Homo sapiens: one gene and its partner. The protein of the gene in region 2 purifies or fractionates together with the protein of the main gene of each other region. This does not show direct contact. Each region holds a gene or a part of one and is shown on either strand. Other genes may lie near its edges. The genes, in order: TLR4 and IRAK4.

The links.
Region 1: the proteins of IRAK4 (region 2) and TLR4 purify together in Homo sapiens (affinity purification with western blotting; 2 studies listed by BioGRID and IntAct, with this or other methods). This does not show direct contact.

The regions. Positions count from the first base shown.
Region 1 is NC_000009.12:117,707,118-117,710,946, reverse strand, and holds part of TLR4 (toll-like receptor 4 isoform A precursor), read right to left. Parts: intron 2,749-3,829; exon of another isoform or gene 2,629-2,748; intron 2,385-2,628; coding exon 2,218-2,384; intron 1-2,217.
Region 2 is NC_000012.12:43,786,251-43,790,079, reverse strand, and holds the end of IRAK4 (interleukin-1 receptor-associated kinase 4), read right to left. Parts: intron 3,682-3,829; coding exon 3,523-3,681; intron 3,401-3,522; coding exon 3,365-3,400; 3' UTR 539-3,364; downstream 1-538.

The DNA of each region.
Region 1 (3,829 bases), on a different chromosome or scaffold from region 2:
TTGCTGTGTCTCTATATCATTACATTGGTGATAATCACTTTAGAGAAGTAGAGTATTAAGACAAAGAAAACATTTAAGTTGGATTCTGGAGATGTGAACTTAAATCTCTGGTCTGTGGCTAACAAGCAATGATAATGTATATAAGTCATTTAAATTATTCAAGCTTCAGTTTCCTCACCTATAAAAAGAAATATATATATATTTCTATAGGGGAAAGAAGGCTGCCTGGTCTATCACAAAGCATTCTTACAAGACTAGTTGAGTTACTGTATGTGAACACTGTACGAAAAGGCAAAGGATGTCTATTGTGCTATCTTTTGTGCTTGCCCTAATTCAGAATCTCCTATGGGTTAACAAGAAGGGAAGCTGGCCTCTCTGTAAGCACAGATTTAAGGTTTCTGGGGCAAGTTTATTGGGTATCCAGTGGATTGAAGATGAATTACATAAGAGACATTGTTTGGTGAAAAACTACTTCTTGTTTGAAAAAAAAAAAAAGGGAGAGGTGGTCTACCTTAATAGAGTACTTGACAAAATTTTCATGCAGGAAACTGAAATTTAGAACATAATGGCATAGATGCAGCTAGTAGCCATTATCCTAAGCAAATTAACAAAGGAACAGAAAGCCAAATACCATGAGTTCTCACTTTATAAGTAGGATCCAAACATGGAGTACACATGGACATAAAGATGACAAAAATAGACCCTGGGGATTACTAGAGAGGGGATAGAGAGAAAGCAGCAAGGGTTGAAAAACTAACTATTGGGTACTATGCTCACTACCTGAGTGATGGTATCGATTGTACCCTACACCTCAGCATTACGCAATATAACCATGTAAATCCCTGAATCAAAAATAAAAGTTGAAATTATTTTAAAAACCTAATGAAATTCTGTAAGAATACTTTATGCTTATAAAATATATTTTATAAAAATTTAAATATATACAGCATATTAATATTTATTATCACATTTAATCCAGCAGAATAAGTTTCATCATTTCCATTGATCAGATATGAAAACTAAGATTAAGGGAGATGAAGTAATATGCCTAAGGTTACATGGTTATAAAGGTTGGGGGTAAACTTGGCTCAGGTCTTCTGACCCCAACAGGACTCTATGCACTATACCACTGCCTTTGAATTGTTCCATTACTCCTTTGTTACATCCTATCTATATCCAAATTAGAGTATAATAGGTCGTATGCTCACTCTTCTACAGAAATGTCTGCTCTAAAAAGGATTTTTATACTGTGACCTTAGTCTTTATCAATAATTTCTATAATAAAAAATATGTAAAATGTTTTGAAATGTTTTACAAACCATTGCAGAGAACATGATCCATTATCTAGTTCGATTTGCAAATAAGGCCCCGATGATGAAAACCCTTTTAGAATTTGGTTCCCCTAAAATATCAAGATGACATTTCACCTGCCACAACAAACGATATACTTCCCTGCATCAGAAAAGAAAATCTTAGCCATTATTCCCTGCCCACAGCAGATGTTTTCCTTTAATCTTGACATCTTTCTCCTTGGGTTACTTGTCTTTTCCTAATTCCCTATCCTGTACACTAGTTTTAATATTCTAGACATTGTTTGAATCTTATGCAGTTCATGAAATCTTTCTTGACTACCCACCACAGAGAAGGCCCCTCTTCTGAAAAATACAATTAGTTACCTTTAGTTTAAACATAATTTATCACCTACTGTTATATGTCGCTATCTTTATATCAGTTTCCAGATCCAAAAAATCATAATTAAAATGTGTTGACTATATACTATGTACCCAGGACCATACCCAGGACTTTAAGGTATTAACTCTTTCAAGAAGATATGCCTCCTTAACAACAGGGGCTGTGTGTTATATATCAATATATGCCTGTCTTCTTGCAGAGTGTACAACATATAGCAAGTAGTCAATAAATAGCTGCTTATGAAAGAATTTAAGCTAATTTTCTCTCCTGTCTTAAAAGAAAACCTAAAATTAGAATTGCCCTTAGAAGCTGTCTCAGCCAACTGCCTACTTCACAGATTAGAAAACTGAGACCTGGAGAATAGAGGTAGCTTGCTCAAGGTTATATAGTTAATAAGACATCTGTTGTATGAATGAATAAGTGAATGAAGATGAGACTCCACAAACCAAGCTTTCCAGTCCAATAATGAAATGACAGGACAATGAACACCTCACCTTGTGCAGTATGTAAAAGTGGATTCATTACCTGGATAAATCCAGCACCTGCAGTTCTGGGAAACTGAAGAAGCTATAGCTGCCTAAATGCCTCAGGGGATTAAAGCTCAGGTCCAGGTTCTTGGTTGAGAAGGGGAGGTTGTCGGGGATTTTGTAGAAATTCAGCTCCATGCATTGATAAGTAATATTAGGAACCACCTGCAATGATTACACATGACATGAAGTATCTTTACTGCATGGTCTCCCAACTCCCCTCTCCTAGACCAGAGATGGTGGAGAGGGGCCTCTTTTTGTGCAAGCACAAAATTCAGTCAACCTTTCATCCATCTGTCCATCCTTCCATCCATATATCCATCCATCCATTCACTCAATTCATGCTTATAAATTGTCTTACTCTAGATTAGAAAGTAAAGAGCACCTACTACGTGCTCAGCATTCTAACCTCCGTGATAAAACGGCAGCATTTAGCAAGAAGCAATGGAATCGGGGTGAAGGGCTGAGGCTCCGGAGTCTGAAAGCTCTGGGTTTCATGCCAGCTCTTCTGTGTGGTTTAGGGCCAAGTCTTTAAAAACAAAACAAAATAAAACGAACAAAAGAAAAACCTCAGTGAGCCTCATTTTATCATATGTAAAATGTAGGTAATAAAATATCCAATATCGTGCTTGCTGCAGTAGCACATACACTAAAATTGGAAGGATACAGAGAAGATGAGCATGGCCCCTGCACAAGGATGACACACAAATCCATGATGCGTTCCATATTTTCATGATCTATGCAGCAAATCACCATGGCACACATTTACTTATGTAATAAACCTGCATGCTCTGCACATGTGCCTCTGAACTTAAAAGTTGAAAATACAAAAAATAAATAAAATATCCAGTATCATTTTAAATACTCCATATCATTGGGGAGACTGTCTGGCAGTCAAGATGTCCAGACCTTCCTTAGTCATGGCCCAGATTTTGACAACTGCATTCTTTTTCTTGGCTCATTGACCCTTGAGCAAAGTGATGTAGAAATAGGGGGAAATCTTTAGAGTGCATGGATTCCCATGGTGGAACCTAGTAAATAAGGTCAAGTGCTTTATGCTGTCTTTGTTTTTACACTGCTTTCTAGCCTACTTTCCCACATTCTTTGTAAGCCTAATTCTCTAACGCTCCCATCTAATTTCTGAATGCTCTCATTTCCTCCAACAAAATTCCTTGCAGAAGCCAGCTAATTGTAGTTTTCTGTTGTTTGAAACCAATAGAATGTTTGAAGGATTAAATGAGATAAGGTGTTTAAAGAGTTTATTTAAAAGCCCGCTACAGTATAAGTGATCAATAGATGTCAACATTAATTATTATCATCTATCATTAATCCCTTACCATATGCCTGCATAGTTCTTGTTTGTTATATACTTTCACTTAATCTTCAAATAAGCATTTAAAGATGAGGAAAATGGAAATTCAAAGAAATGAAGTAATATGCGCAAAGTCAGAGTTCAAACATGCAGATCTTCATTCGTATGTCTGCTTAAATGTTGCAAGCCATGGAGCCTCAAAGACAATATTGTCTAATAGAAACAGTGCCAGGCACTCTTTCTTTGCCCTCTTTTATTCCCTTTCACGGGAAGCACAACCATCTAACATTATGTTGTC
Region 2 (3,829 bases):
TTCCAAATGAGAGAAGTAGTGCATTAGTGCTTTTGAGACCTGGGCTTGGAACTGACCATCACTTTTTCTGTAAGCAAGTTACAAGGCCAGCCCAGATTTAATGGTTGAGGAAATAGACTTTACTTCCTGATGGGAAAAATTACAAAGCCATATTGCAAAAGGCATCAAATATAATGAGTGGAGAATTGCAGTCTAATACAATGAACAAGGGAAAGAAGTTATTTAATCATTGGGGGTCTCAAAATTTCCTCAAGAAGTAAAAGAATAGAACCTACATTGTAGATTTATCAAATCAGATCATGCTTCTAAAACTCAGCACAATGTTTGGCACAATAACTTTCAACATATGACAGAGAAAATGATTATGATTAATATGATGCACAGACATCGTGTTAGTGGTAAAGATCGCAAACTGATACCAGATGCTAATTTCTGCCACGCAACTTATTAGCTATATAATCTTGGGTAATTTCCTCATCTGTAAAATGTGATTATTACCAAATTCATAGGATTGTTATAAAAATTAAAGCACTTCAAACAGTATTCATAAGTGTTTAATAAAAACAATCTATAACTTAAAAATTACAAATTTATATAGTTAGCCCGTTTTGCATCACTATAAAGGAATAACTGAGGCTGGGTAATTTATAAAGAAAAAAGGTTTGTTTTGGCTTACGGTTCTGCAGGCCATACTAGCACGGCACCAATATTTGCCTGGCCTTTGATGAAGGCCCCAGGAAGGTTACAATCACAATGGAAGGCAAAGGGGGAGCAGACTCTTTTAAGCCACCAGATCTCACACGAACTGAGTGAGAACTCACTCATCACCAGTGGCTCTAAGCCATTCATGAGGGATCATCCACCATGACCCAAACACTTCCCATCAGGCCCCACCTCCACCCCCAACACTGGGGATTACATTTAAACATGAAATTTGAAGGAGACAAACATCTAAACAATGTCATTCTACCCCCAGCCCCCCAAATCTAATGTCTTTCTCACATTGCAAAATATAATCATCCCTTCCCAAAGTCTTAACTCATTCTAGCATCACTCAAAAGTCCTAAGTCTCATTTGAGACTCAAGGTAAGTTCCTGCCGCCTATGAGCCTCTGAAATAAAATATAAGTTATTTATTTCCAAGATACAGTTGGTGGTACAGGCAATAAGTAAAACATTCTTGTCCCAAAAGGGAGAAATTGGCTAAAGAAAGGGGCAACAGGATCCTGGCAAGTCTGAAACCCAGCTGGGAAGACATTAAACTTTAAATACTGGCACTTTGGGAGGCCGAGGCGGGTGATCACGAGGTCAGGAGATCAAGACCATCCTGGCTAACACAGTGAAACCCCATCTCTACTAAAAATACAAAAAAAATTAGCTGGGCATGGTGGCGGGCACCTGTAGTCCCAGCTACTGGGGAGGCTGAGGCAGGGGAATGGCGTGAACCTGGGAGGCAGAGCTTGCAGTGAGCCGAGATCGTGCCACTGCACTCCAGCCTGGGCAACAGAGCAAGACTCCGTCTCAAAAAAAAAAAAAAAAAAGCCCTAACATATTCCTTGATTCCATGTCCCACATCCTGGCACACTGGTGCAAGGGGTGGGCCCTCGAGGCCGTGGGCAGCTCCACTCCTGTGGCTTTGCAGGGTGCGTGGCTTCCCTCATGGTTGAAGTTGAGTGCCTGTGGCTTTTCCAAGCTCAGAGTGCAAGCTGCTGGTGGCTCTACAATTCTCAAGTCTGGAGGGTGGCAGCACCCTTCCCATAGCTCTACTAGGCAGTGTCCTGCTGGGGTCTCTGTGTTGGGGCTCCAACCCCACATTTCAGTACGTACACTATAAGCCTCCCGCTGTACATGCTCTGTATAATTTCCACATACCCCTCAAATGTGGGCAAAACCTGTAAATATCATGGGAAATCATCATGGGAAAAACATCATGGGAGAGTATCTGTATTTGTTTTCTATTACTGAATAATAAATTACCACAAACTTAAAGGCTTAATGTGACCCATTTATTTATTTATTTATTTATGATGGAGTCTCACTCTGTCACCCAGGCTGGAGTGCAGTGGCACGATCTCAGCTCACTGCAACCTCTACCTCCCTGGTTCCAGCTAGTCTCCTGCCTCAGCCTCCCAAGTAGCTGGGACTACAGGTGTCCACCACCACGCTCGTCTAATTTTTGTATTTTTAGTAGAGACGGGGTTTCACCATGTTGGCCAGGCCGGTCTTGAACTCTTGACCTCAGGTGATCTGCCTGCCTCGGCCTCCCAAAGTGCTGGGATTTACAGGTATGAGCCACCACATCCAGCCAATGTGACCCATTATCTCACAGTTCTATATATTAGAAGTCCAGCACAGAACAGATAGATTCTCATACTGAGGATCATGCAAAGCTGAAATCCAGGTGTCAGCCCAGGCTGTGGTTATCATCTGAAGCTTGGAGTACTCTTCTAAGCTGACTCAGATTTTTGGCAGAATTCAGTTCCTTGTGGTTGCAACTGAGGTCCCAATTTTTTTTTCCTGCTTGCTGACAACTGGAAGGTAGGTCTCATCTCCTAGAGGCCACCTTTAGGTTTTAGCCAATGTGGCCCTCTCACATACTTCTTCAAGGCTTACAAGGAGAATTCTTCTTGCAAGGGTTCACTTGATTAGGTCAGGCCCTTTCAACAGTCTCAAAGTGAGTTGTTTAGGAACCTTAACTGCATCTGCCAAATTCCTTCAACTTTGTCATGTAACATAATCTAATAATGGACATATCATTATGGCAGTATCATCAAGGGATATTTTATTTGTGGTTAAATGATTGCTGTGAACACAATCTATAAATATATGACTAATAGGATTTTGTAACTGGCTCTATAAACTTTAAATTTTGTATCATTTTACAATTTACAAAGTGCTTGTATATATTTTGCATCATTTGATTTTCATGACTACCTGTCAGAGAAGCACAGCAGATATTAGCCCAATGTTATTAGTGGCTCACAGCAGCTAAGTGTATGTCCAAAGCTTTACAGCAAATTAGTAGTGGAGTCAGCTGGGCTTCAGATCAGAGTGTTTCCACCCTACATACAGCCCAGGCTCTTTTTGCTAACCCTGTAATTTTCAAACTGTGTTTGGTGATGCTTGAAGGAGATTTCTCAGGGATTACTGTAAGAACTGGGGGTGATACTAATGGGTAGGGCTAAGTGTTGATATGGTGGCTCTATTTTTATATTTTGGAAGTTCAACCCATGCTTTAATAACCACTGTCCTGCAACAGCCTATGCCTTGTTAAAGGTAAAGAAGAATATTTAGGAAAAAAATCAGTTAAAAAAATGGTTGAGATAGGTGTATATAAAAAGTCAAGAGTCTTTTCCAATAAAGTTTTAAGAAGCTGTCATCTCTTGCAGCAGCTGTTGAACCTTTTAAAAAGAAAGAAAAAAACAAAAGAACCACATTATACAGTTGCTTTAAAATATACACTCTGGAAAATATGATGAACCCCACCCCTTTCACTTTTTAAATAAGTATAAAAAATGCATACCTTCTTAATGTCTGGTCTCTTATTTTTCTTTTCATGCAGACATTGACTAGCAACAGAGTACATAGCTTCAACTGAAGTGGAATCAGCATCATTCATCTTTTTATCAATATAATCTTCAATTGTCTTTTCTTCATCTTCAATTTCTTCTTTAATATCTAGCTTTAAAATGAGTGTTAAAACTTTAAGAGCTTCAAATCATAGTGAAAGAAAATAGAATATATATTTTAATTATTTAAATTAATCTACTTTGTAATAACATGTGCTCTCATTTTACTATCTTATCTTAAAACCTTATTAAGAATTGAAG